Linked DNA regions of Homo sapiens. The protein of the gene in region 1 purifies or fractionates together with the protein of each later gene. This does not show direct contact. Each region holds a gene or a part of one and is shown in the gene's direction. Other genes may lie near its edges.

What was found.
Region 2: the proteins of PLAGL2 (region 1) and TOMM34 purify together in Homo sapiens (affinity purification with mass spectrometry; one large-scale study listed by BioGRID and IntAct). This does not show direct contact.
Region 3: the proteins of PLAGL2 (region 1) and CRABP2 purify together in Homo sapiens (affinity purification with mass spectrometry; one large-scale study listed by BioGRID and IntAct). This does not show direct contact.
Region 4: the proteins of PLAGL2 (region 1) and CMTR1 purify together in Homo sapiens (affinity purification with mass spectrometry; one large-scale study listed by BioGRID and IntAct). This does not show direct contact.
Region 5: the proteins of PLAGL2 (region 1) and SPAST purify together in Homo sapiens (affinity purification with mass spectrometry; one large-scale study listed by BioGRID and IntAct). This does not show direct contact.

What each region holds. Positions count from the first base shown.
Region 1 is NC_000020.11:32,199,780-32,206,001, reverse strand, and holds part of PLAGL2 (zinc finger protein PLAGL2), read left to right. Parts: intron 1-798; exon of another isoform or gene 799-908; intron 909-919; exon of another isoform or gene 920-2,522; intron 2,523-3,709; 5' UTR 3,710-3,823; coding exon 3,824-4,083; intron 4,084-6,222. UniProt on the Homo sapiens protein: Shows weak transcriptional activatory activity.
Region 2 is NC_000020.11:44,949,361-44,955,582, reverse strand, and holds part of TOMM34 (mitochondrial import receptor subunit TOM34), read left to right. Parts: exon of another isoform or gene 1-362; coding exon 363-515; intron 516-3,580; coding exon 3,581-3,750; intron 3,751-6,222. UniProt on the Homo sapiens protein: Plays a role in the import of cytosolically synthesized preproteins into mitochondria. Binds the mature portion of precursor proteins. Interacts with cellular components, and possesses weak ATPase activity.
Region 3 is NC_000001.11:156,699,106-156,702,583, reverse strand, and holds the end of CRABP2 (cellular retinoic acid-binding protein 2), read left to right. Parts: intron 1-1,531; coding exon 1,532-1,710; intron 1,711-1,925; coding exon 1,926-2,042; intron 2,043-2,507; coding exon 2,508-2,558; 3' UTR 2,559-2,978; downstream 2,979-3,478. UniProt on the Homo sapiens protein: Transports retinoic acid to the nucleus. Regulates the access of retinoic acid to the nuclear retinoic acid receptors.
Region 4 is NC_000006.12:37,434,938-37,441,159, forward strand, and holds part of CMTR1 (cap-specific mRNA (nucleoside-2'-O-)-methyltransferase 1), read left to right. Parts: intron 1-686; 5' UTR 687-692; coding exon 693-825; intron 826-6,222. UniProt on the Homo sapiens protein: S-adenosyl-L-methionine-dependent methyltransferase that mediates mRNA cap1 2'-O-ribose methylation to the 5'-cap structure of mRNAs.
Region 5 is NC_000002.12:32,117,715-32,123,936, forward strand, and holds part of SPAST (spastin), read left to right. Parts: intron 1-6,222. UniProt on the Homo sapiens protein: ATP-dependent microtubule severing protein that specifically recognizes and cuts microtubules that are polyglutamylated.

The sequences.
Region 1 (6,222 bases):
AGTAACTCTTGGGCAGGAGGATAAAAGCTATTTTAGGGTAGTCACTGAAGTGGAGCTGTTAATCCTCTGTGGGTCTCTTTAGTTAAGAACACTCAAAGATTAACCCTTTCCTTGTGCAGGGGTGTTATCTCTCAACTGTTTTTTAGGGGGGAGTGAGGAGAATTTGAGTGTGGCAGCAGAAGGTGGAAACATGCAACTCAATACAAAGACAAAGATAATAGCTCTCTTTTGTTGGGTACTTCTAGCAGGCCAAGCTCTGTGCTGAGCCCTTTGCATACCTCACTAAAATAATCCTTACAGCAAGCCTGTGAGGTAAGTATTTTTAGCTTTACAGATGAGGAAACAGGCTAATAATGGAGAAAGAACGCAGTTTCTATAGAGATGATGTAACACCATAAAAACTATAGTTTCATCAGAGAGCAGCAGGCATCATGGCCCATAACAGGGGACGGACAGACTGGGGAGAAATATGTCTCAGTTTCAGCTTTCAAAGAGGACCATACAGAGTTTTTAGCAAGCATTCCTGTTTGGGATATGGAGCCCTAATAATACAAGAGAGTATAGGAAAGTGGCTCTCTGCTTAAGAGAGAACTCTGGCCCAGGAGATGGTGCCTGGAGGGAGGTAAAGTAAGGGGCTCTTTAAAGGGGATGTGCCGAGGGTTAGTTGTGAGGGAAAAGGGGAAGACTGCATTCTGGGGGAGATGTTGGGAAAGGAAGGAAACTCACTCTGAGGCCTGAGAAGTAACATTAAAGAGGAAAAAAAGAAGTACTATTCAGGCCTCATGCGGAAAAAGAGGCAGACACAGCCGAGACCTCAGAGAAGGCACTGCATGTATTCAGAGCACACATTTTGTATCAGCCACTTTCAAGAGTATTATTTCATTTAATCCTCTATACGAATCTTACAGGTAAGGAAAATAAATCCGTATTTTAGAAATTGAGGAAACTGAGGTTCAGAGAAATAAAGTAACCTGCCTATGGTTTCCCAGCCAGTAAGTGGCAGCTCTTCTGATAGCAAGTCCAAGGTTCTTTCCCCTTTCAGATCAGGCACTAGAAAGAATCTTAGGCTGAAAATATACTGAGTTGTGCCAGTAACTGGGAAGGATTGTGTTTGTTTTATGGAAACAGGTTCTGTCAGCTTCTCTATAGTCTATAGTTGTTAAGATTAAAATGTGAGACCAGAAGAGCAGCTTTGAAAGAGAAGTAGAATTCTTTCACAGTTTTGCTGAGGAAGGACAAGTCTGAAGGAACAGGCCTTCTGCTTATGTAAGACAAACCCAGGAATCTTTCTGGATCAGAGGAGTTTTCAGACAAAGGGCAGAGAGAGACTAGATCCCCAAAAGGGTTCCTAGGTAACACTAGCAGCTTTGGTTATCCAAGAGGCTGCTGGTGACTGTAGGTAGGGACTTCCTGTGCCTTTTGAAAAGTGTAGGAGAGTAGGATCAGGGTGTTGGCTCTTTTCTTTGTGAAGACATAGCCCCATTAAAAGCAGATCAAGGTGAGCACATGGCTGCTGCTTTCCTCCTTTGGTTCTATCAGTACAAGCTCCTTAGCCACCACCAGCCTCTTTCCTAGAAGCCCATTACTCACTCTTTCAGTAGCAGCCTACTAAACTATTGTGTCTTGTTTGTGCTTGTTCAGGAGAACAGATGAGGTGGACGTGTGGGAGGTGGGGACGTAATGTTCTCTTTCTGAGTTTGTGTGGAGTTTCCAGGGCTAGGCTCCTCTCTCACATCAGCCAAATTGATGTGACTTGTTTCCTTCTGGCTGCCATTCCCAACTTTCCAGAGGCTGAGGTGCATGATTTCAAATTGAAGGGGGAGTAGAATTTGACTTTGAAGGTAGGGGTAATTCCCTCCAATCTAAACATGCACACTCGAGCACACTCTCTGCTCAATTCCAAGGTGCATAGTAATTGCTGGTATTACAAACAGGTAATTCCACCCTTGCAAAGGAGGAGGGGACTTAAACAATGAAAGCCAGACGTCACAGGCCTTTGAGGTTTATAGTGAAGCAGGCACATATGCCATAATGACTTGAAGGCTCAAGTGGGACTAGTTTTTAGTGCTACCTACCCCTCCCCAGCATGTGATTCATGCAAAATGCAGCCACCTTAATGCAGATCTTTCTAGACAAATCTACACTCGTGATGGGGACGTGTTTATCATATTACATCGCAGTGTTTCTTCAACAAGAGGAATGGTTCCTGAACAGGACGTAGCTCATGTTAATGATGAGCAAAGCTCTCTGGGGCATGAACCCGCTGATCCCATCATCTTGTTCACGGCCAGTCTGTTGGATGAATGGTCACTGTAAGCAGCAGGTGCTAATGAGCTGAGCAAGCATTCTGTGGCCCACAGCTAGTTTGTGCAGTTGGAGCCCTCCCCAGATTCTCGTGGATAATCCCCAGACACCCCCTTTTCTCTCTTCACATGGAAAAGCCTCATGATCAAATTTTGGCACCATCTCTTCAAAGGGAATCCCCCTGTTGTAGCAGGTTGCATCGTGGTTGGTAATCTGTGGTAAGCTTGGGAGTATGAATGTGGGTCTCTTGTCCCCTTTTGAGAGTCAGTGTGGTAACTCCCATCCTCTTCCTCTGGATTAGTATCTGGAATGGAGTTGTGTCGTTCTTGCACATCTCCCCTTCTATTCAACAAGAGAAAGAATCAGACTTTAAGATTTCGGCTCCCCACTTGGGAATGGCTGCGAACCCAGTTTAAACCAGAACTACCTGGGCCTAGGTTGGTCCCTGAGAATCAACCTGCATTCAGTGACTAGTTTACCTATCTGAAATAAAGTTAGGGTTCCTTTTCTAGATATTAGGTATATAGAGATGAAAGAGAGATGATGCAAGCCCTCAGACAATCAGGCTGGTGGAGAGGAGTAAATTCCAATGCGAGCTCGCTACCGTCTTCTAAAGGAGATGTGCATATGTACTCTGAGGCCCTGTAGGAGGGGCCTCTCAGCACCTAGGGGTGTTGGACAGGCTTTGCTAAAGAGGGATGGTCTGGGCCCTGAGACACAGTGACCCAGAGAAGTGGTGGTGGTCAGGATGGGACCAGTTCTAGTCCTGGTTTAGGGAAAATGCTAAGAATCTGCTGTTGCCTTCCCATATAGACCCTCCTGATGTTGATGCACTGCTAAGAAACACATCTGGTACCAGGACTGACTAGGATGTAAATTTCCTAAGTAGAGGCTTCCCCTTCCTCCTCTCTTGCCTTTTGGGCATTTTATTGCTCCTTAGCACCTCCATGAGGAGGACAATTGTGGAAAGTAGTGGACGAGGAGGTGCCAGGGTAATAAGAAGGAGGAACCGCTATCTCTAGGTTCAATGGAAAGGATATAAAAGTGAGGTCCAGAAGAAAAAGTTTGAAGTTTTGGGGCTTTTGGTTCCTCAGTTTATCTTGTTTCTTATTAGCCTAGATGGTACTAGTAATAGTAGCTACCACTAAGCACTTAATGGATGCCCAGCCTTCTGCTGAATGCTTTATATTCATGATCTCATTTAATCCTCAAAACATTTTTATAATTTAGGAGATTATTATGCCCATTTTATAAATGAGGAAACAGCTCAGGGAAGTAAGTAATTGGCTGAAAGTCACACAGCTTCTAAGTGGAAGGGCTGGGATTGGAACGGGATCTGTCTGCTTCCAGAGCCCATGTTCTCATGGTATTGGGCTCCCTAACACCAGGTGTTCTGATGTTTCAGGTGAAGAGATTGTTTTCTGAAAGCTGCGTTGGAGGCTGTGACAGAGCTGAGAGCCTGTGTGGAGCGGATGGGGAGGCTTTCTCAATAACATGGCCCTTTGCCATTAGCCTTGCCATGACCACATTTTTCACCAGCGTCCCCCCCTGGATTCAAGATGCAAAGCAGGAGGAGGAAGTGGGCTGGAAACTAGTTCCCAGGCCTCGGGGCCGGGAGGCGGAGAGTCAAGTGAAGTGCCAATGTGAAATTTCGGGAACACCTTTCTCAAATGGGGAGAAGCTGAGGCCTCACAGCCTCCCGCAACCAGAGCAGAGACCATATAGCTGCCCTCAGCTGCACTGTGGCAAGGCTTTTGCTTCCAAATACAAGCTGTATAGGTAGGTGACACTCTCATATCTCTTCCTGCCCTGAGGTTCCCAGAGGGAAAAAGCAGAGAGACTCTGCCTAGTGTGGGTTTTTAATCTGTGGCAGAAGAGTGGAGGTTAATTTGTCCTACAAGTATACCCTGAATGCCAAACAGTTGAAGTCACTCACTAAAAAATGATTCAGATTGCTTGATTCAGACACTAGAATCTGATGGGTTGCCTCCCCAAAGTATTGGGATTGCTGGCGTGAGCCACTGCACCTGGCCTTCTTACACCTTCTTAGTGACGATCTGGGTGCCAATGTCAGGCAGCCTTGAGTTTTGTTTGTTTGTTTGTTTGTTTTTTTAAGAAATGGGAGTCTTGCTCTGTCATCCAGGCTAGAGTACAGTGGTGCAATCAGCTCACTGCAGCCTCCAATTCCTGGGCTCAAGTGATTCTCTTGACTCATTCTCCCAGGTAACTAGGATTACAGGCTTGAACCACCGCACCTGGTTGTTTTTAATTTTTTGTAGATATGGGGGTGTGGCTGTGTTCCCCAGGCTGGTTTCAAACTCCTGGGCTCAAGTGATCCTCCTGCCTTGGCTTCCCAAAGCAGTGAGATTACAGGCATGAGCCACCGCACTTAGCCCTGAACATTTTTTTTTAAATATTGCTTTCCTCACCTTTGTCAGGTGATGGTCAGAATTTTAGCTAGAAGTTAGGAATCAGTATTCGAACTTTAGAAGGAAAAGTAGACCTTCTGGCCCAGTCTGTAAATTTTAAAGTAGAGGTTCAGAGTAGGGACATAACTTACCCAAGGTCACACAGCTTCAGAGGTCCTGCAGTGCCTCTTCTACTGAATCAGCCTGCTACTTACTCATTTAACTATGTCTGTCTCCCTGTTGCCCACTGGGGCAGCTGCTTTTCTGAAACTTGTAAGCCCAAGAACCCCTACTTAAAGTGAAATTAAACGTAAAAGCCCTGACATAAGGCAGATAGAGAAGAGCAGCTTTGGTTGCTTTGGTGAGGATGGGGAGGCATGGTCAAAAGCAATTTTGGGCCAGGCGTGGTGGCTCGCACTTGTAATCCCAGCACTTTGGGAGGCTGAGGCGGGCGGATCACTTGAGGCCAGGAGTTTGAGGCAAGCCTGGCCAACATGGTGAAACCCCATCTCTACTAAAAATTTTTTAAAAATTAGCTGGGTGTGGTGGCACATGCCTGTAGTCCCAGCTACTTGGGACTCTGTGGCAGGAGAATCACTTGAACCCAGGAGAAGGAGGTTGCAGTGAACTGAGATTGTGCCACTGTACTCCAGCCTGGGTGACAGAGCAAGACTGTCTCAAAAAAAACAAAAAAGAGCAATTTTGATTTTATCCTTTTCGCATTAGAGGAACCATGAACTTGCCCTTTAGAAATGAGATAGATCAGCCGGGTGCGGTGGCTCACGCCTGTAATCCCAGCACTTTGGGAGGCCAAGGCAGGCGGATCACGAGGTCAGGAGATCGAGACCACGGTGAAACCCCGTCTCTACTAAAAATACAAAAAAAATTAGCTGGGCGCGGTGGCAGGCGCCTGTAGTCCCAGCTACCGGGAGGCTGAGGCAGGAGAATGGTGTGAACCCAGGAGGCAGAGCTTGCAGTGAGCCGAGATCACACCACTGCACTCCAGCCTGGGCGACAGAGCGAGACTCCGTCTCAAAAAAAAAGAAATGAGATAGATTGGCCTGATGCACAGTCATCCAACCATCCATTCATCTATCCAACATTATTGAGCTCTTGCTCTGTACCAGGCACAGTGCTCGGTGCAAGGGGCGGAGTAGTGAGCCAGACAGATGGGGGTGCTGGTCCTCCTTGGGTTTATGGTCTTAATAGTGGGTACAGACAGTAAACAAGTAAATACATGAACAAGATGACCACAAAGCCTCAGTTCCTCATCTGGAAAACAGTTAATAGGAAGGGACTAAAATAGGCAACAGGGTAGCATGGTAGTCAGGATTGCCCTCTTGACAATTCTGTGGTCCTCAGGAGTGCTTAGATTCTCTGTGTGCTCCTATAAGTTAAGGGAACTCCAGTCAAGGCCATACTCTTAGGCTTTCTTTTTTTTCTTTTTTTTTTGAGACAGGGTCTCACTTTTGCCCAAGCTGGAGTATAGTGGCGTGATTATAACTAACTG
Region 2 (6,222 bases), about 13 Mb from region 1:
ACCACCCCATCTGACTCCAAAGCTTGTTTGTTATTCCCACTAGACCACAACTGTAAAAAAACATAGTAGCATGAAAGCCATGAGGCTTTTGTTCTTGATTTTGGGGGAACTGAAACTATGAAAATTGATGCATGTGCACACACATTTAACAAAATTCATGTTTCTCTGCCTTCTTTCTCCTCCTCACTTCAGTCTACGTTGAAAAATCCCTGTTCTGAGGTTTGGCGTTTTTAGCCATGTCTCTCGGCCAGAAATTACTTCCTGTACGCTGAGTGCTCCAGATAACCCTGCCTGGAAGAAACTGTAGGGAAACCCTGGTGGCTCAGCAGCCAGCCAGTTGACATTTTTGCCTCCTATTCTAGAGCACTGGCCTTGGTTCCCTTCAGCATTAAGCCCCTGCTGCGGCGAGCATCTGCTTATGAGGCTCTGGAGAAGTACCCTATGGCCTATGTTGACTATAAGACTGTGCTGCAGATTGATGATAATGTGACGTCAGCCGTAGAAGGCATCAACAGGTGAGCTCCATTCCCAGCAGGTGGTCTCCACGGCAACTCCCTGTCCTTCTTGATTGGCTGCGGGCCATTGCCTTGTCTGTCTTCTGAGGGGATCCCTTTGGCTACACTTAAAAAACTCCCGATGGGCATGTAGGGGAAGCTGAGAAAGGAAAATCTGCTTTTTTATTTAGCAGGTTTTCAGGGAGTCAATTACTAAGATTGATTGATTGATATTTGCCTACATGTGCCTCACAGTATCTATGTACACAGTAATATTTATTGTACACTGTTTAAGGTGTTGTGCCCGGTTCAGTGGGGGATACCAAAATGAGAAAGAGATACAGACCCCACTTACCTTCAAAGCGCTAACGCTAATTAGAAGAATAAGACACAAGCCCAAGCAGCTATGACAAGCCTAAAAGGATATGGTTTGTGGACATGGTTCAGTATATTGCACTGTGACCAATCCAAGAGGTTCCCCAGGTGCAATTCCTTTCTGGTCTCTGAGCAGTTATTGGCTTTTATCTCATGGATATTGTCATTTGTATAACTGATCATGTTTCCCCTCTGCGTGTGCGGCTAGAAAGCCAAACACTGCACTAATAGCAAACCCTTAACAGGGACTTCATGGTATGTATTTAGTGCTTTATTTCTGGCTTGACTTGTCTGCCAGCATTCTTTGTTTTCTCTTTGCCTCCTTTTTAACTTATCTGATTCCACAAAATCTACCAATTATGTGACAGACTTTGCTCTAGGACCTGGGCTGATGACTGAGACATACCTCTTCCTGCCGTCATAGAGGTCCCGGTCTCAAGGAAGACACCAGTCAGTAATAGGCAAGCACAATACAACATGATAAGCGCCATGGTAGGAGGCAGCACAGGGGGCTCTGAGGCCAGAAAGGAGCCACCTAGCTAGCTGAGAGGGAGAGGGGGAGGCCAGAGAGAGCTTTTCAGAGGAGGTGAGCTAAGAATGAGAGATATGGGGTAGGGGGTTAGCCAGAAGACAGAGCAGCGTGTGCAAAGGTGAGCAAGTGTGACAGATCACAGGAATTGTAAGAAGTCGGTTTCACATGGTGCTGCAGGCAGGAGCTCAGCTTGGGACAGGTTGGTGAGGCCAAGTCACACAAGACCCAGGGTTCAGGGCTTGGACTTAATCCTGAGCAAGTCAGCCTTTATGAAAAGGTCTTTAGCAGTGGAGCAACATGAGCAGATTTGTATTTTAGAGAAAAGCTCTTTGCTGCCATGTTGAGGGATGATATGAAGGGCAACAGAATAGAAAGGAGTCATGCAGCAATCCAGGGGAGAGGGTGGAGAGAAAACAATGGGACCAGTCAGGGGACATGTAGGAAGTATATCAACAAGCTTTAGTGGTTGCGGGGTATCGAGAAGGGAGGAATAGAAGAAGACACTCAGATTATTGACATTCAGTCGGAGGTGACTGTGGGACATAAGACTAGAGATCTAAGTAGGACGGTTGGGTATTTACATGGAACAAAGGAAGAAAATACAGGCCAGACATAAGGATTTGAGGGTCATCAGCGCAGAGGTGGATTAGGGCTGTGAGAAAGAAAAAGAACATCACAGCTAGTGTGAAGAGGATGGAGCTTTGAGAAACTCCAGCATTTGAGGGACTTACAGAGGAACAGCAGCTAGAGAGGTGGGAGGAAACAGGGCATTGATGTCCCAAGGGAAGGAGTATTTCAAGAAAGATGGAGACATCATTAGTGTCAGGTGTTCCAAGGAGCTTACATTAAAGGTTTGGCAATGAAGTCACCGGTGGCTCTGATGGAAGCTGGTCAGTGGGATCAGGAGCCAGAGGGCAATGCTTTCAGAAAGTCAGGCTTGAAGAGAAGCTGGGGAGTATACCTGTGATGGCAAGGGGTGTCCAGTATGGTTTTATTAGGTGAGGAAAGAGTTAAAGGGACTTAAATGCTGACGGTTGGAGTTAGTAGAGAGGAAGGATGAAGATGTGGGAGAGGGAGGTGCTGCCTGGGTGTGGTCCCTGAAAGAGGCAAGAGGAGATGGGATCCAGAGCTTAGGTGGGTGGATTGGTCCCATTGTCTCTTCTGTTGTGACAGGAGAGAAATAGGAAGGATTGGGCACCCAGGCAGGTAGGTTTGTATTTGGGGTATGAGGAAGTTTGCTCTAAAAAAGGGGAAGGGCCAGGGAACAGGTTTGAGGAGAGCAGAGGTTTGAAATAGCTTGGCCGCCAGGAAAACAGCCTAGCCAGAGACATCTTGGAATTTGTAGTGATACAGTCTGTGGTTTTTATTCTTGTAATATAGGAAACATGGTTGTAGGAGCAGAAAAAGTATACAGTTAGCATTATTCACTCATTCAACACATAACTGATTGGGCCTTGGTGGTTGCTAGGTGACATACCAGGTGCTGGAGATCAGTTGACAGAATGAACTTGGTCTCTGGGTGGCATTTTAAGCTGAAATCTAAAGAATAAGTTGGAGTTAGCCGGGCCTGGAAGGTGGCAATCTTTTTCCAAAATGAAAATGGTTGTTCTGGGTAGAGGAAAAAGCATGTGCAAAGTCTTGAACAGAAGGATCAGAAGAGAATGTGGCTCACAGTGAAGGGGGACAGGAAGGGGTGGGGACCAGATCTCACATGCCACATTAGCCTAGGGAATTGGGAACCCCTGAGGAGTTGTAAGATTTGAGAATGACATAAGCTTTGCATTTTTTAAAAAGCCTGAGCATTAAACAAATGTCAGGTGCTTGCATGGTTGTGTACTTGATTCATTGATAAAATATGAAACAAAATGTATGATTCTTTCTTGGAGAAACTATAGTCTTTTTGGATCATGGTTTAAGTATCCTTAACAAGCAACAGATCACCACTTTAAAGGTAACATAGTTTGACCAAGCTCAAGGAATGTCATGGGGACTGATCTGAGATGGTGTTTATGGGTTCCTGTATTGCACGTGTTGGAGGAGCTAAAGAGGTGGTTCCGACCAGGGGGAGGGTGGCAGCTCTGGCTCTTCTGAAAAGGCCTACCTCCCATGGGTGTGTGAAAGGAGAAATATCTTCTTGACCCAGCTGGAAACCTCCCTGCAATCCTGCCTTCTTTTCCAGAATGACCAGAGCTCTCATGGACTCGCTTGGGCCTGAGTGGCGCCTGAAGCTGCCCTCAATCCCCTTGGTGCCTGTTTCAGCTCAGAAGAGGTGGAATTCCTTGCCTTCGGAGAACCACAAAGAGATGGCTAAAAGCAAATCCAAAGAAACCACAGCTACAAAGAACAGAGGTGAGCTGTGACTCCCTGCCCAGAGTCTTGCAATCTCCCACTATCCATTTTCTTTAGAGTAGTCCTGCAAAAATTGGCATTGTTTAGCTGAGTTATAAAAATAATCTTAGGAACAAAGTATAAAACAAAATACAAGTCTTCACCTCTTAGAGACTGTTTTCTCAGCTGTATAGTGAGGGTGATGATAAAGTCTTCCTCACAACCATGAGGACTGAATGACATAAGACATGTAAAACTCCCAGCCTGGCACATAGGCATGCAGTGTGAGTTCCCTTCTCTTTCCTCTGGTAGCACTTGGGATGTAGTACTTAGGATGTTTTTGGTTGCAAAAACAGAAAGCTCAACATGGTAAACATAGTATAGGGAATTTATTGGCTCATAAAACTGAAAAATCCGAGAGAATTCAGGCAAGGTTTGCTCCAGCAGCTCAGTATATTAACAGACTAACTCCATTTTTCTGTACTTATCACAGCTTTATTTTCTGTTGTGCGTCAGCTTTGTCTTTGGCAAGCTTCCCTCCTAGTAGCAAAATAGCTATAGCAGTTCCCGGCCTCACATCCATACCCCATGCCTCATGACCCAGAGAAAGAAAGTCTTTCTCTGATAGCTCACTAGGAAAAGATAGGATTTTTTTCCCCCAAAAAACTCTAGCTCACATATTTTCTCAATCATTTTCTCAATCTATTCTGGTCTTCATGGTCACAGGCCATTCCCTGAAGTACACACCATAACCGGCGGATGAGATTTTGTGATTAGGTCACCCTGAGGCACCTGCCCCACCTCCAGAACTAGAGGGTGATGCTTCCCAGGAGCATGTACACTGTGTGAATCCCTGGAGAAGCATGAAGAAGAGAAAGGAGATCCAAGCAGCCAAAAACAGGAGATTCCTCACCTCAACTGTATGAAATGAAGAGGCCATTTGTCAGGCACTAGGAAGCTCTTTTAATGCTCCAGGGGAATGGTCCCAGCCCAGCAAGCTAGGGATTCAGGCTAGAGGTGCAGAAGGGATCAGAGATGGAGCCCTGCCATGTGTAAGTGACCTATAGGTGTTAGGGGAGGACAAGAGTTACTCACCTTCTACAGGAGAATGCCTCTCTGGTCATGGGTAGCATTCACTCTGGTTTGTGGGAGCCTGGTAAGTGTTCCCCACTCTTCTCTAGGATGAAAATGTGCGGTGCTAATGAACCTGATGGCATCAGTGCCATTGATTTCATTCTTTCAATCAGTGCACCTACCATTGATTTCATTCTTTAAATCAGTGCACCTACCATTGATTTCATTCTTTCAGGGTCACTGAGCCATGTGTTCCAAGCCATGTGTATGCTAAGCAGTGTGACACAGAGGACAGTCTTGGCCCTCAGGGAACTCTCCCTCAGTTGAGGGACTGAGACATGTAAACAGTGTCTTAAAACACAAGGAGGAGGAACATGTGCTTTAGAGTCTTAGTGTTTGAGGACTTCAGGATAGAAACTGACTTAAGTGCATGAGGGAGTCGGGGAAAGACTCAGAAGGGGTGGCAATGGAGGTGGAGCCTTGAGCTGGACCTTGAAGAAGGTCATCAGGTGGGAAGGAAGGAGAATCCTTGGCAGAGACAGTGGAGAGAGTTGGAGAATGAAAGTGCATGGGGGGAACAGTAGGAATAAGGATGACTGCAGAGTGGTGTGTTGCAGGGTGCCAGTGAAGCTGAAGCCCTACTTCAAGAGAAACCTGTGTGCATGTGCACAGGGAGATGTACCCACAAATGTTCGTAGAAGACTGTAATAGCAAAAAACAACTGGAGATAACCCAGATCTCCATAAATGGGAGAATGGACAATTCAGCTTTGGTATTGCAGCAATGAAAATGAAGGAGCTGCAGGTCTGTGCATCAACACAGATGAATCTCAGAAATATAACATTAAGGGGAAAAAGAAAAACCAAGTCATAAAAGAATACACAGACTTATTCTTCTGTATGAAGTTCAAAAACAAAGTAAACAGCAAATGATCTGTGGGTACTGTTGTATATAGTTATACTGTTTAAAAAGGTGGGGAAGAAGCACAGAATTGGGGATAATAGTTTCCTCCAGCAGTGGATTGAATTGAGGAAGGTCCCCCAGGACTTCAAAGGTCCTAGTTATGTTCTTTTTCTTAAACCAGGCAATGAATTCAGGGTGTAAACCTATAATCTTACCCTGGTCATAAATATTTAGTATTTTATAAAGATAGTTTTAAAAATTTTTGAAAAGCAGATGATATGGAGCTGAGGCTGGAATAATTAATTGGGGCCAAGCAGTGAAGGGCCTGAACACCAAGTTGAGCAGCTTGGATTTCACCATGTTCCCTCTGCTTCCTCTCCTTGAAGGCTGGAGCAGAGCTGCATGTGTTAGATGAGGGAGGATACTCACAGGCTCAGCCCAAACCAGAAATGAGGAATAGCAGGCTCTTCTCCCCTTTTCTCATAGCCCAGAAGCTATACCTTTTCTTTACCAGAT
Region 3 (3,478 bases), on another chromosome or scaffold:
TCAGGCTGGTCTCAAACTCCCAACCTCAGATGATCCACCCACCTCGGCCTCCTAAAGTGCTGGGATTACAGGCATGGGCCACTGCGCCAGGTCGTTTTTGTTTGTTTGTTTGTTTTTTGTTTTTTTTGAGATGGAGTCTCGCCTTGTCGCCCAGGCTGGAATGCAGTGGTGTGATCTTGGCTCACTGCAACCTCCGCCTCCCGGATTCAAGTGATTCTCCTACCCCAGCCTCAGCGTCCCAAGTAGCTGGGATTACAGGTGCGCGCCACTATGCCCAGCTAATTTTTGTATTTTTAGTAGAGATGGGGTTTCACTATGCTGGTCAGGCTGGTCTTGAACTCTTGACCTCGTGATCCGCCCGCCTCGGCCTCCCAAAGTGCTGGGATTACAGGCGTGAGCCACTGCGCCCAGACTTTTGTTTTGTTTTGTTTTTGAGACAGGGTCTCTCTCTGTCACCCAGGCTGGAGTGCAGTGGTATGATCTCGGTTCATTACAACCTCCGCCTCCCGGGTTCAAGCAATTCAGCAATTCTCCTGCCTCAGCCTCCTGAGTAGCTGGGATTACAGGTGTGAGCAACTGCGTCCAGCCCTGGCTTTTTTTTTTTTTTGGTAGAGTCGGGGTTTCAGCATGTTGCCCAGGCTGGTATCGAACTCCTGAGCTCAAACAATCCACCTGCCTTGGCCTTGTAAAGTGCTGGGATTATAGGTGTGAGCCACTATACCCAACCTTGATTGGCTTTTGAAGAAGCTGTTATTTCCATTTTACAATTGAGGAATCTAAGGCTCAGGGTGGTTAAGCCATTTGCTCAGGGTCACCCAGCCTGTAAGGGGGCTGAGCCAGGAGGAAATCACAGCCTCCTGGACCTTACTCCAGAGCCTCTGTCTTCCCAGGCTGCTGACCATTCTGTAGAGGGAAGCAGCTGCCCCTGCTCTCTTTCATTGCTGTGGGGCAGAAATTGGGCAAATGAAGACCTATCTAGCACTAGATACGGTGGGTAGATAGGGCAAAAAGGGAAATGGCTCCTACTTCCCAGGACATGAGTGATGGGGTCTGGCCTGTGCTTGGCCAGGGGTACAGTCCCAGTGACTCTGATGAGCTGTCAACAGGGTAGACAAAAGGCCAAAAGTGAAGTAAACAGAGACAACCGGAGCCAGTAGCAGGATGTTTGTTGGGTAGGGGGCTGGGGAGAAGCTGCCCCTGGGCATTCTGGGACTGAAGAGCTGAGACGTGGGGAGCCTGATCCAGACCTGCTGACTCAACAAGGTGGGGCCACAGCTAGGAACAGGACTCCCAGGGGCAGGCCACTGCCTCTCTCCCTCTCCTCCCTAAACCCCCTCATCTTTCAGGGCTGCACCGCCTACCGTCTCCTTCAAGGCACTTTCTTAGACACCCAGGCACCAGGCAGATGCACCCCCCAACACACCCACCCCAAGCAAGTCACAAATCAGCCTGCTCCAACTGTCTTATGGGGAGGGTGTGAGAGAGGTGCCCAAAGGCCCCTAAAAGGTGAGCCTCTCCTCTCTCCCCACAGGGGTGAATGTGATGCTGAGGAAGATTGCTGTGGCTGCAGCGTCCAAGCCAGCAGTGGAGATCAAACAGGAGGGAGACACTTTCTACATCAAAACCTCCACCACCGTGCGCACCACAGAGATTAACTTCAAGGTTGGGGAGGAGTTTGAGGAGCAGACTGTGGATGGGAGGCCCTGTAAGGTGAGTGCCAGAAGGGGCTCCAGGGTCATGGCGTCATTGCCCTGCCTCTCAACCTGCCATTTTCCAGGCTAGCAGTTAACTCCTAGCTTCTCTCTGTCCCAGTAGGGAAAATCCCTAGGTGGTGGTGGGGGCTAGAAAGGGGCTCTCTCCCTTATCCCTCTCACTGCATTGCCCCTGCTATGGGCCCAGCTCACTTGGCCACCTGTCTCTTGCAGAGCCTGGTGAAATGGGAGAGTGAGAATAAAATGGTCTGTGAGCAGAAGCTCCTGAAGGGAGAGGGCCCCAAGACCTCGTGGACCAGAGAACTGACCAACGATGGGGAACTGATCCTGGTAAGTCCTGCCTCCTCCCCACTAATAGCAAACCCAGTGCTACCTTCCAAGATTCTCTGGGAGACCCCAGGGTGCAGGAGACTCAAGAACAACCATGGCTGGACTCCGCACCCTGCTGATGGGACTGCTTGAACAGAACTAAGGTGTCCCTATCCCATACAGTGCCCTGTGTGAATTAGAAATGGTGTTCCTTTTATGCAAGCAAAGGGCATGTACTGAGGGATCCCAGCAGTTCTTCAGGGAGATCTTCCTGGCTTGAGGAGGAGGACGGGCCCCAGGGGCTCTATTGCTATCCTCCCTCCATTGATGCCTGGGCATTCTGGGACCAGCTCCTGCCTGTTGGTCTTGAGCCAAGAAGCAGGTTTGGACCTGGAGGCCAAGCAGAGTACCTCCATTCAACCCTCCTCTCCAAAGCCACAGGACCCCAGGGGCCTCTCAGGCTAACAACTACTTCTGTCCTTCCAGACCATGACGGCGGATGACGTTGTGTGCACCAGGGTCTACGTCCGAGAGTGAGTGGCCACAGGTAGAACCGCGGCCGAAGCCCACCACTGGCCATGCTCACCGCCCTGCTTCACTGCCCCCTCCGTCCCACCCCCTCCTTCTAGGATAGCGCTCCCCTTACCCCAGTCACTTCTGGGGGTCACTGGGATGCCTCTTGCAGGGTCTTGCTTTCTTTGACCTCTTCTCTCCTCCCCTACACCAACAAAGAGGAATGGCTGCAAGAGCCCAGATCACCCATTCCGGGTTCACTCCCCGCCTCCCCAAGTCAGCAGTCCTAGCCCCAAACCAGCCCAGAGCAGGGTCTCTCTAAAGGGGACTTGAGGGCCTGAGCAGGAAAGACTGGCCCTCTAGCTTCTACCCTTTGTCCCTGTAGCCTATACAGTTTAGAATATTTATTTGTTAATTTTATTAAAATGCTTTAAAAAAATAAAACCTGTCTCTGGCTCATTGGGCAGGTAGATAAGTCACCTGAGTTCAACCTTGCCTCTGAAATGTAGTATGGGAAAGACTTGTGTTTCTGCAGCATGGAACTGAGTTATACAACAGGAGAGGACAGTCCTTCCAGTCACCGTTCTAACCACCACCCCTTCGTTTGCTGCTGAATCCACAAGCCTCACCTCCACATTCCCTTCTCCAAGGTCCTTCCTTGGTGTCCTGCTCTGGCTTCCAAGGTCACAAGGGCCTCCTCCTCCTGACCTCTCAGCTGGGGCACTGGGCTCTGAGGAGCTGACTCCCACCTTCTCCCATGTTTTCCATCATGGTGACAGTTTCCTCCTCCTCCTCCAGCTGTTGCTTCCCTCTCCTCCAGCTTCAGCCCATGGGTGACCCCAGGCCTGGCCTTGGCCTCCCACATGGTTCCAGATGAGCTCAACGGCACCCACAAGCTGGCCTTGCAGCTGCCTGGGCCTCTGGGTGAGAGGTCTCATCCTGCC
Region 4 (6,222 bases), on another chromosome or scaffold:
GATTTCTGTCCTTAAAATTGTTGTTTTCGTAACTGAGTTCTGTGGTATAGCTACCTCCAGTCCCAATAACTTTCCCGCTCTTGTGTTTCCTCGGTCTTAAGTCATTTCACTGCTTCCATTCCCTACTCTGCTTAAAAACTTTCCCAATTCTTTCATGTTTTCAAACATTATGAAGTAAACCAAAACCAGTATTTTTATGATATTATGTAATTTCTTAATTGTTTTGGTAAAATAATGCTGATGAAACAGTCATTCTGGGATGGTCCCTTCACCTTGGGAATATTGGTTAATATTTATTCGGTTTTATAGTTCATTTTCAGTGTACATTGTCATGCATGGCCAATATTGCATCAAAAGTGTAGAATAACTACAGGTACCAAGGCTTTATCCCCCAGTGGCTTGTGGAGTTGATCCATGACTTTCTGTTATCTGACACCAGTGGCCCAGGGCTCTCTCAGTCTGTGAGCACCACATTTTCCAGTAAAACAGCTATTATTGAAAACCAACACTTGTCTAGCATCCTTCCTAGACCTCATTCTGAGGAAGAGGCTATTCAAGTGCTGGCACTGGAAGATGTGTAGAATTGCCAAATCTCATCCCATTGATGATTTACACTTTGGAATCCCTGCTGTGATCCCAGTGGCTGTGACCCAAGGGCAGCTGACTGACTGGATTTATGGTTACAGTTAACGATGAAGAGGAGAACTGACCCAGAATGCACTGCCCCCATCAAGAAACAGAAAAAAAGAGTTGCAGAGCTTGCCCTGAGCCTCAGCTCCACGTCCGATGATGAACCTCCCTCCTCTGTCAGTCATGGAGCAAAAGGTACGTGTGCTTGTGTGGTCTGAGGCCACTGGCCATCTGGTTATTTGAACACACAGTGTCTAATCTAGGTGGAGCAGACTATAGTCCACTGCCCCTTGGTCCCTTGAGGAAAATTAGGAATACTCTACAGAGAGATGTTGGCTATAGACTCTTTTCCCTTCTGCCATTCTCCTACTAAGAGTGGGGAAACTTGTTTTAAATAAAAAATGGTAATTTTTCCAGAAGTTGCTTTCTGTTGGTTGTCCTTCAGTAGGTGGCACTCTTGCTGCCTTAAACCAGTTAGAAGTAGTGGTGAGCATTGAGTGCTGTGTGCCCTTAATAGCTGTTAATTATCCTGGGGCTCTTTTGTAAGGGAGGGCCTCTTTGCTGCGGCCGTCGAGCCTAATTTTCACTTTTTTTGCATGCATACCGTTTTCTCAATTCCTTCAGCGGTTGTGGTCAGAAGTATCCAACTACTGGAGCATTGCTGCGTTCACTGTTTGCATTAAGCGTCGAAGATTTCACTAATCTGGTTGAAACTAGCATTTTGCTTTGCCTGTCTTTTAGGGTTATTCACAGTTTCCATAGATGCTTTCTGAGGAATGGTAAAATGTCTGGGAGCTTGCCTCAAATACCTCAAGGTAAATTTGCATTTACCTTGACTTGCCAGCTGTATTAGTTTCTTAGGGCTACTGTAACAAATTACTACAAACTGGGTGACCCAAAACAACAGACATTTATTCTCTCACAGCTCTGGAGGCTAGTAGTCCAAAATCAAAGTGTTGGTGGGGCCATGTTCCCTCAAAGGCTCTTGGGAAGACCTTCCTTACCACTTCTAGCTTCTGCTGGCTGCTAGCATTCCTTGGTGTTCCTTGGCTTGTGGTAGCATAACTCCAATCTCTGCCTCTACCTTTCCTCTGTGTGTGTCTGTATCCAAATTTCCCTCTTCTTATAAGGACATCGGTCATTGGATAGGGCCCACTGTAATCTAGTATTACATTTGATGTAATCTGGAAAGACCCTATTTCCAAATTAGGTCACATTTACAGGCTTTGGGGAGGATACCATATTCAACCCAGCACACCAGCAGGCTTGCATATTGGATCCTCTGTTGGATCACTGGGAAACTGGAATGAAATTTCATAACAGATTGGTGACTGAAAGGGTGTGAAGCACCCTTTGAAGGTAGTAGGAAATACAGTTTATTCACAAGTGATAAGCTTATTGAAGGGCAGTTACTCATCAGCTGCTACTGAGAAGCTGGTCCAGAGAGAAGCTTGACAGGTGGTACAGCGAATGGAGCATCGGTGTCGCTGTAGTCCAGGCTAGATAAGAGAGTCAGTTGCAGCTTTGTATGTGGAGGTGTTCACGCCTTTAAAGCAAGCTTGTCCAACCTGTGGCCCAGGATTGCTTTGAATGGGACCCAACATAAATTTGTAAACTTTCTTAAAACATTATGAGATTTTTGGGGGATTTTTTTTTTTTTTTTAAAGCTCATCAGCTGGCCAGGCGCGGTGGCTCACAGTTGTAATCCCGGCACTTTGGGAGGCTAAGGTGGGCGGATCACGAGGTCAGGAGATCGAGACCATCCTGGCTAACACAGTGAAACCCCATCTCTACTAAAAAACAGAAAAAAGTAGCCGGGCGTGGTGGCAGGCGCCTGTACTCCCAGCTACTCGGGAGGCTGAGGCAGGAGAATGGCGTGAACCCGGGAGGCAGAGCTTGCAGTGAGCCGAGATTGTGCCACTGCACTACACGGAGCAAGAGTCCGTCTCAAAAAAAAAAAAAAAAAGCTCATCAGCTGTTGTTAGTGTATTTTATGTGTGGCCCAAGACAATTCTTCCAGTGTGGCCCAAGGACGCCAAAAGATTGGACACCTCTGCTTCAAAGTCACAGTAGATTCCAGGGTAGGTAGGAATTGAAGTTCCTGAGTAAGAAGGCAAAAACTTACTGCACGCGATGGTTCTGGAGATTCTTGAGGAAAGGGAATTTTACCTCTCACCTGGAATTTGAGCAGCTTGGTGAAGATAGAATCTCCTTGGGTAGGGGTATTGGGAGAGATGGCTTGTAAGGGAAAAAGAGAGAGTATGTCTGGGGAACAAGTGATATCTGGTTCTAAGTGGATCTTGGGGGACATTTGCTCTCAAGTAACATCTCTTTGAAGTAAGGAAAGGACAAGTCCCAGGTAAAAGAAGGTAAGTGTATAAGGGTAAGGATCCTTCAAGGAAACCGTTCTGATTTAAATTTCAAGCTTTTGTGACTGAATTGAGATTACTCTTCCCCCTTCTCTGGAAGTGGTACTATATGACTCAGTCAGGATTGACTATTGCTGTTGTGTGTGTAGAATGGAAATCCAGGCTGGGCATGGCGGCTTATGCCTGTAATTCTAATACTTTCGGAGGTCAAGGTGGGCGGATTGCTTGAGCCCAGGAGTTTGAGACCAGCCTGGGGAACATGGTGAAAACCCACCTCTGCAAAAAATACAGATATTAGCTGGGCATGGTGGCATGCACCTGTAGACCCAGCTACTCGGGAGACTGAGGTGGGAGGATCACTTGAGCCTAGGAGGTAGAGGTTGCACTGAGCCAAGATTATGCCACTGCACTCCAGCCTGGGCATCAGAACAAGACCCTATCTCAAAAAGAAAAAAAAAAGAATGGAAATCCAGAGGTGTCCAGTTCCTTGTATGTGTCTGGCAAGAGGCCACTTCGTCCTTTCATTTGCAGAAAATGAGATGGGAGGCAGAGGCAAACCAACATTTCTAGATTTCCCTAGGTTAATTTATTTTAGGAAGGGGCAGCTCTGCATTGACACAGAAACTGAGGGCAGTATCTTTATCAGCAAGACTGCTCCCTGTGCCTTCTTTCCCACCATGCCTAGCCTGGAGCAAAAGCTCAGTAAATAGTTACTGAATAGAACTGATAAAAGGCAACAATAGTATCTTTTCCAAGAAGCTTAAAATGCGTCACAGTTTTCATTTTGCCTGTCTCCTCCAGTCTGCAGAAGATCATTTCATTAAGTACTTAGCATTTATATCACCTATGTTCTGTATCTAATTCTCTTAGGTGTCCCCCGGACAGTATACCCTGGTGGTTTGCTGTCTACATATCCCCTGAAATGTATATGCAGCTTTCCTATTCAAATCATTCTATTAAAGCAGAGGTGTTTCCATTTACTGCAGCCACTTCTACCTGAACATAATGTTCAGGTAGATGATTGAAAAATGCTCTTTAGGGAGGACAATTAGAAAAACAAAACAGTAGTTACTATTTCTGTCTGTGTGGACCTTATTTTTTCCTCCTCTGCTAAATCAATGTAATGACTCATTATTAGATCTATTTAGTTTAATCAGTGTGTTTATTTTACATTATTCACATGGTAGCTGCATTGCCAGGTCAAAGACTGACATCTGGCCAGAGTAAAGAAGAAAAGGGATGTTGTTGTCATGGCCACTGTTGCATCGTGATCTTTTGAGTATTTTCAAAGGAGTTTGAAGGTATTTTCAAGTGTAAATACATTCTTACAAATTTGCTGTCAAATAACTTTTTGAAGTAAGGAGAGGCAGATGAGGTCATTTTGTTCTCTTTGGTTGTTTTTCACGGGAAAACTATGGTCTAGACCCTAAGAAAATTCCTTCTCTCCTTAGCTGTGCATCTGGTGTAGGCTCCTAGCCCTGCTGCAGCCAGTTGCTTTGGAAGTTGCCAGGCTCCTTCACCAGTATCACATTAAAGGCGCCTTCCTCTCCACCAGGTTTAATTCTTTCCTAAATAGGCTATTTGCCCTGAAACACCATCGCTTTCCTGTCAGCCCAGATTCATGACCTTAATCAAAAGCTTCCTTTATCGGTATCTGTTTAAATTGCTCTAACAAGTTACCATTTGTCTGGCATGAAGGAGAAATTGAGTCTTTAAGTAGGAATGAGTTTATTTCACCACAGTCGTTAAGCAGGATGTGATGTTTATTAAAATTCATAATTTATTTTTCTGTATCTGTGTGCTGCCCACCTTGGCCATTAGCGGTTGGAGCTGCCCCTCTTTGTTGTCACTGTCATTTTTTAAACATAGTATATGTATTCTTTTTCTTTTTTTAGTGACAGGGTTTCACTATGTTGCCCACACTGGCCATGAACTCTTGAGCTCAGGTGATCTTCCTACCTCAGCCTCCCAAGTAGCTGGGACTACAGGCACATGCCACTGTGCCCAGCTTGTCACTGCCAATTTTAATCTTGGCATGTTTGTCCCATTGCTGTATTGCCATGTGAAAAATTTTGCCAACAGCCAGGAGACCTCTGTTTCCTCTGTAAAGTTGAATCTTTCTTCCTTGTAATGACTTAATAGTGATTTCTATCAAGTGGAGAAGAAATCTTAAAACCGTACATACTGTTTTGGGCTCTCTGGTAGGTTTTAGGAGGGGAGCTCCCCAGGAGGTAAATGGGAATGCCATCCAGCTTTGGCAAATTCTTATTGAAACTAATGAGTTTAATAGACTGACCTTATTACTCCTATTTACAACCTCATTACAAAATTATCTGCTCAATGTTTGCTAAATTCTTTATCGGTCTTGAGAAGCTAAGCCTCCTGTTTAGTTCCTGCTGCAGCCGTGACAATTGTCTCCCTTTCATATGAAAAGAGTAGCCTCAAAGGCCCCTGAGTAAGAATAAGTAGTGGCTGTGGCAGTCTGTGGACATCAGGAATAATCTAGGGAACTTTGGCTTAAAGCATGTCAAGCTAAGAAGTGGTCTCCTATACCACGTGAATAAAAGAAAAAAATAAGACTTATTTGCTTATCTAGCACACTTCTTGATCTTACAAGGAATTGCCTAGTAGGGTGATATTTTACTCCCATTAACCTCACTCTTAGAACCTGGAAAGGATAATGTACATTAGGTAACACCTTGGGAGGAAGAGTAGGAGGGAAAAATCTTTGTGCCAAAGTCTGGTACTGGAATTTTACACCAGAGTCACCACTGATTTGCTTAGTGAGCCTTCCACTCAAATTTGGTTCTCCCTGTCATTTTTGCCCAGAGATATTCTGAAGACAGAAGGAAACAAAAGATCTCTCTTTGAGATCTTAGGGTGGCAGGAACCCTGTGTGCCCAGGAATGTTATTTGTACTATCTCCGTGCTCATTGTTGGGCCCTCAGGCAAATCTAACAGCCTGGCAACTCTTTAGAGCTGGAGCAAGGGCATACCCTCCTTTGAGAAGGATACCGGGTTTTCAGACTTTTTCATAGGTAGACCTATGAATGTCCAGATTGCTGGTGAAAGGAGTAGCAACTGATTTAGCATTGTAGCTTGTGATTAGTCAGGGCCCTGGATCCCTGGGCTGCCCAAGAGGAACTTTAGGGCTCTGCTTAGGGAGCTGCCCACATTCCTGGTACCACCTGTTTCTGTATTAAGTAGTACAGGTTGAAGGCAT
Region 5 (6,222 bases), on another chromosome or scaffold:
AGAGATAGGGTTTTACCATTTTGGCCAGGCTGGTCTCAAACTCCTGGCTTCAGATGATCCGCCCACCTTGGCTTCCCAAAGTGCTGGGATTACAGGCAGAGGCCACTGTGCCTGGCATGAAGAACAATTTTTAAAAGAATGACTTTTAAGGATATTAAGTCATCAAAGTAGATAGAGCCATTAAATGATGGGTAGAAACCTAATCTTCCATCCCATATTTTATGACTTATTAAGGAAGATAGGCAATCTTGCAGTTGATAATAAATATTTGGCTTTCCATACTTAGCACCGTTTTGAATTTTTCCAGTTCACAGATGGTATATTTAGTGCTGTTCCAATAATATTGCAAAAAATAAATCTGAAGACTCACTTCTGGGTCACAGTTATTTCACTATTAACATTAAAATCTTACGGACCTACCTGCAACATGTAGTGGAAATAAGTTGTGTGGCACGTTGTGGTGGGTGCATTATTAAATAAATGTGCAAAGGTTTTATGGCTGTCTCAATTTTTCCATAGTCTTGAGTCATTCACATACTGCCTTTATGGTGTTTATCACTTGTAAGTGAGTACCAACTGTACTAGAACTTACTGAATATTTTTCAAGTCTATTTTACTTATTACTCATTCTAAGTACATAAAATCACTGGTCTGATATGCAAGTTAGGTTTTCGCTAATACCCAGTAAAATAATTAGATAATTATTAAAATAGAAAGCATTTGTCATTATGTGAACTGGATTTATGTCATGTACCACCTCAGGTCACACTTTGGGAAACGTAGCTTACGTATTGAGCTAACATTTTGCTGGAGTTATATAAGATTAGTAAATGCTATAGACTAAATATTGAAAAAAAAGCTTGCTTAAAGAGGATTTACATAATTGTAGACCTGAAAAGGATCTTAGCAGTCTTCTGATCGATTCATTGATAAAGAAACTAGTCCTAAGAGCTAAAATGACTTGCTCAAGATTTTAGTTAAGTGGTAGACCTAGGAAATACCTTTCTAAGATTAGAGCTGCCTGGTTAGTGCTATAGCTGCCACCTAATTCTTACATTTATTTATTAAGGGACATGCTTTTTACGGTAGAAAAATATATCTAAAATTGTGAAGGTAATACCAAGGAAATATTTAGGCTATGCAAGAAAAGTCATTCAGCTTTTGCTTTACCCAGGCCTATAGAGAACATATCTAAAATAATAAGTAACATGTGAATTTGAATTTAGGCATATTTTCATGGTAGTGACATAATGTGCAATTAAGAAGCTATAATAATGTAAAAATGCCAGTTGCAAGTTATTTCAAATAAAGTTGAATAACCTGACCTCAGGAGGGGCAGAAACCTTAGTAAACTTAGCAAACTGAGACCTAAGGAAGAGCAAGATCTGTGGTAGAGCCAGGTCTAAAGGTTTATATCCTGGTACAAACTTGTCTATACATCACCACACCTGCCAAATGGAACTTTTTTTCCTTGTAGTTCAGATTTCCAAGAAAGGGAATATTATTGTCCTAGCTCAGCGTTTCACAATAGACTCACAAAATGAATCTTGTTAAGCCTATGAATGGGTAAGACTTATCCCATAACACGCCTCTATTGTGTAAAAAAATCAGCTTTATTCCTAATTCCCTGTAGTAGGAAGCTTGCATAGACCACAATAGAGACATTGTTAGATTATATCAAGAAGGTGAGTGGCAGGCATTCTTGAGTATACTGGAATTTTTATTTCATTGTAGAAACACAGAATCATAATTAGTCATCTAAAACTGGTTTTAAGGAGATAATACTAAAGATACTCACTTGAGGTAGATTGTTCTCAGAATTACTTAAAATAAGTGCTTTAAATCTTGCTCATTCATGAAGCCATAGCCCTGGAAGGAGATATTGAAAAACTTCTCCATCTTCCTTCAATCCCATAGGACCATGTTTTTAATTGTAGTTTAACATTAAACATAATTTTTGAAAGTAGCCAATATTAATCTTTGACAAAAAACTCAAACTAAATAGCAGAAAATAGAACATGCCCTCTCCTCTCGCCCAAAAGTAAGACTACATTTTAAAGTATATCACAGTGATCTGTCTAAATATTTTTCTCAAATATTTTACTAAGAAAGCGTATATTCTTCTGTCCTTATTTCATAGATCTCTTCTGTATCCTGTGCAGCTTGTCTATCATTTCGAGCTTTTATATTTCTTATTTTGTTCTCTTGCTGCTTAAATGTGATTCTTTGAGATTTATAGAAGAATGTGATTGTTCTCCAGTTTTAAAAAGCTCTTCTCTATCTACTAAAATTTCCATGAATTTCTTTCTTTCTTTTTTTTTTTTTGATTGAGACAGTCTCGCTGTGTTCTCCAGCGTGGCCTTAGGCTTAAGTGATCCTCCTGTCTCAGCCTCCCAAGTAGCTGAGATTACAGAAATTTCCATGAATTTCCAAATATGATGTTATCTTTCATATAAGCTTAAACATAAGCCTTTCTTCTTTCAAAAATGTTAGAACTTACCTCTTTAAATAATCTTATAAAGCCATTTCTTAATTTTTGTTACCTTTTCGAATCTATTAACTTGCATATCATAGTAAATGAACCCTTAGCTCCATCATACCACACACCTTCTACTCCTGTCCTCCCACTTTTTCTCACCCAGGCTGGAGTACAGTGAATATTTAGTGCTTTTAAATATTATTCATTACCAAGCCAAGTAGCGTACTATTTTTTCCTTGTACAGCCTTTTTTTCCCCTAAATAATTGTGTTATTTTTTCATTTGCTTCATTTTCATCTTATCGATTGATAATTCTTCTGTTCCATTTCAGTCTAATTTCCACATGGCCAAACCAATCTAAAAACCTGTTAACTCAGGTCTTTTTTTTTTTTTTTTTTCCCAGAATACCTTTTCCTGGAACCACCTTCTTCTTTTCATTCGAGACCAAATGCTTTCCATGCCTGTGTCAAAGTGGTTGTTCTCTAATCTGTCTTCACTACCATCATAATTTCCTTTTCCTTTTTTCCTTTCTTTATTATGTATCTCCTGTCTTTTAAATTCCATATTTTCCACTTTCATGATTTATTTTCTCATTTTGATGGCTACATCTTTCAGTAACTGAGAAAAGGTTGTGTGAGGGAATATTTTGAGATGCTGTAGTTTTGAAAATATCTTTATTCTGCTGTCTTCTCATTAATAATTTGACTGGATGTCAAGATTTAAGTTGGAAACTATTTTCCATGAGTATTTTGAAGGCATTATCTATTGTCTTCTAGCTTCCAGTGCTGCTTTGTATTAGAGACAGAAGATCAGGAATCAGGATAGCATTGGACTTCTTATTTCTATTTCCCAAAGCTTTTTGGATCTTCTCTTTATTCTTATCTTCTGATATTTTATAATGATATGCTTGATGCATTTACTTTTTCTTTTCTTCTTCCCTCTTGTACATTTCTTTCTTTTTTTAGGTGGGGGCAGGGGGGAAGGAGTCTCACTCTTCTCACCCAGGCTAGAGTGCAGTGGTGCAACCTCAGCTCACTGCAACCTCCACCTCTGGGGTTCAAGCGATTCTCCTGCCTCAGCCTCCCGAGTAGCTGGGATTACAGGCATCTGCCACCACGCCCAGCTAATTTTTGTATTTTTAGTAGAGACGGGGTTTCAGGCTGGTCTTGAACTCCTGACCTCAGGTGATCCGCCCTCCTCAGCCTCCCAAAGTGCTGGGATTAGAGGCATGAGCCACTGCGCCCAGCCCCTCTTGGACCTTTCTAGATATTCATCCTTCAATTCTGAGAAAGGTTCTATAATTCTTTAATTTAAAAAAAGTTTTTTTGTTTCATCTTTCTCACTTTTTTTTTTTTTTTTTTTTTTTAAGACACAGTCTTGCTCTGTCACCCAGGCTGGAGTGCAGTGGTGCGATCTCAGCTCACTGCGCCCTTCGCCTCCTGGGTTCGAGTGATTCTCCTGCCTCAGCCTCCCAAGCAGCTGGGATTACAGGTGCCCACCACCACCATGCCCGGCTAATTGTTGTATTTTTAGTAGAGACGGAGTTTCACCATGTTGGCCAGGCTGGTTTCAAACTCCTGACCTCAGGTGATCCACCTGCTTTGGCCTCCCAGAGTGCTGGGATTACAGGCATGAGCCACCGTGCCCAGCCCTATTCTGATTTCATAGATGCAGTGTCTTTTATGTCTCTGAGAGGTTTTGTCAAGTTTTCTTTTGTTTACTTTATTATCTGTTTCTTCAAGATTCCTCCTCTTTTCTTTTTGCCTTAAGCTTTTTCATATTGGAAGCTTCTCTCAAATGTCTGGTTATTCTGGTTGTCCACTTATATTACGTGGAACAATAAAAAAGTTGATTAGGACTCTGTGCTGTAAGTAAGTAAATTGTTGATAGTGAGAGCCCATTAATCACAGGATGATCAAGCAGCAAGCCTACTGTTTATTTGGGTTTCTCCAAATGGCTATAGCTGTCAGTCTTTTTTTTCTGGGGTTATTTGGCTTCTCTAGAAAAGAATTTTCTAGTCTCTTGTTTGGAGAATACAAGCTTGACTATTGGTGTTCCAGAAAATGGGTGGGAGGAGACGACTTTGTTTTCTGTTAGGTTGAGCCATGTGAAATTACTAGGTTTTGTTTTGTTTTCTGTTTTGTTTTGAGACAGAGTCTCACTCTGTTGCCCAGGCTGGAGTGCCTTAGCATGATCTTGGCTCACTGCAACCTCTGCCTCCCAGGTTCAAGCAATTCTCATGCCTCAGCCTCCCAAGTAGCTGGGATTATAGGCATGCACCACCACGCCTGGCTAATTTTTGTATTTTTAGTAGAGACGGGGTTTTGCCATGTTGACCAGTCTAGTCTCGAACTCCTGACCTCAGGTGATCCACCTGCCTTGGCCTCCCAAAGTGCTGGGATTACAGGTATGAGCCACCACACCTGGGCTGAAATTACTGTTTTTATAGGTCAAAAACAGTTGAGGGATAGGCATGGTGGCTCCCACCTATAATCCCAGCACTTTCAGAGGCCAAGGCAGGAAGATTGCTTGAGTCCAGGAGTTCGACACCAGCCTGGGCAATGTAGTGAAACCCCATCTATATTTAAAAAAAAAAAATAGATGAATATCTTTGTTTGCAGATAACATGATTGCATATGTAGAAAATCCCAAAGAACCAACAAAAAGAGCTCCTAGAACTAATAAGTGATTATGACAAGGTGTAGAATACAAAGTTAATATACAAAGTCAATTGCTTTTTTATCTACCAGCAGTGAACAACTGGAATTTGAAATTAAAACACAATACTGCTGGGTGCAGTGGCTCACACCTGTAATCCCAGCACTTTGGGAGGCCGAGGTGGGCAGATCACCTGATGTCAGGGGTTCAAGACCAGCCTGACCAATATGGTGAAACCCCATCTCTACTAAAAATACAAAAATTAGCTGGGCATGGTGGCGGGTGCCTGTAATCTCAGCTACTCAGGAGGCTGAGGCAGGAGAATCGCTTGAACCCAGGAGGCAGAGGTTGCAGTGAGCCAAGATCGCGCCATTGCACTCCAGCCTGGGGGACAGAGCAAGACTCCGTCTCAAAAAAAAAAACACAATACCTTTCATATTAACACTAATAAAATGAAATATGTGTAGTTCTAACAAAGTTTGTTGTAGAAGATCTATATGAGAAGAATTATAGCACTCATGAAAGAAATCAAAGATCTAAGTAAACTGAGAGATATTCCATGTAAATGGACAGGGAGACTAAATATTATTGAGATGTCAGTTCTTCCCAAGTTCATATATCGATTCAGTGCAGTCCCAGTCAAACCCCAGCCAGTTATTTTGTGGATACTGGCAAACTAAAGTTTATATGAAAAGGCAAAAGACCTAGAACAGCCAACACAGTATTGAAGAAGAAAAAAGTCAGAGGACTGAAACTACCCAATTTCAAGACTTACTGTAAAGCTACATTAATCAAGACAGCATGTCATTGGCAAAAGAATAGACAAATAAATCAGTAGAATTGGACAGAGAGCCTAGAAATCAACCCACACAGATAAAGTCAACTGATCTTTGGCAAAGGGACAAAGACAATTCAGTGGAGAAAAGATAGCCTTTTCAACAAATGGTATAGGACAACTGGACATCCACATGCAAAAAAGTTAATCTAGACACAGACCTGACAACTTTCACAAAAATAAATGGATCATAGACCTAAATGTAACATGCGAACTGAAACTTCTAGAGGATAACATAGGAGAAAATCTAG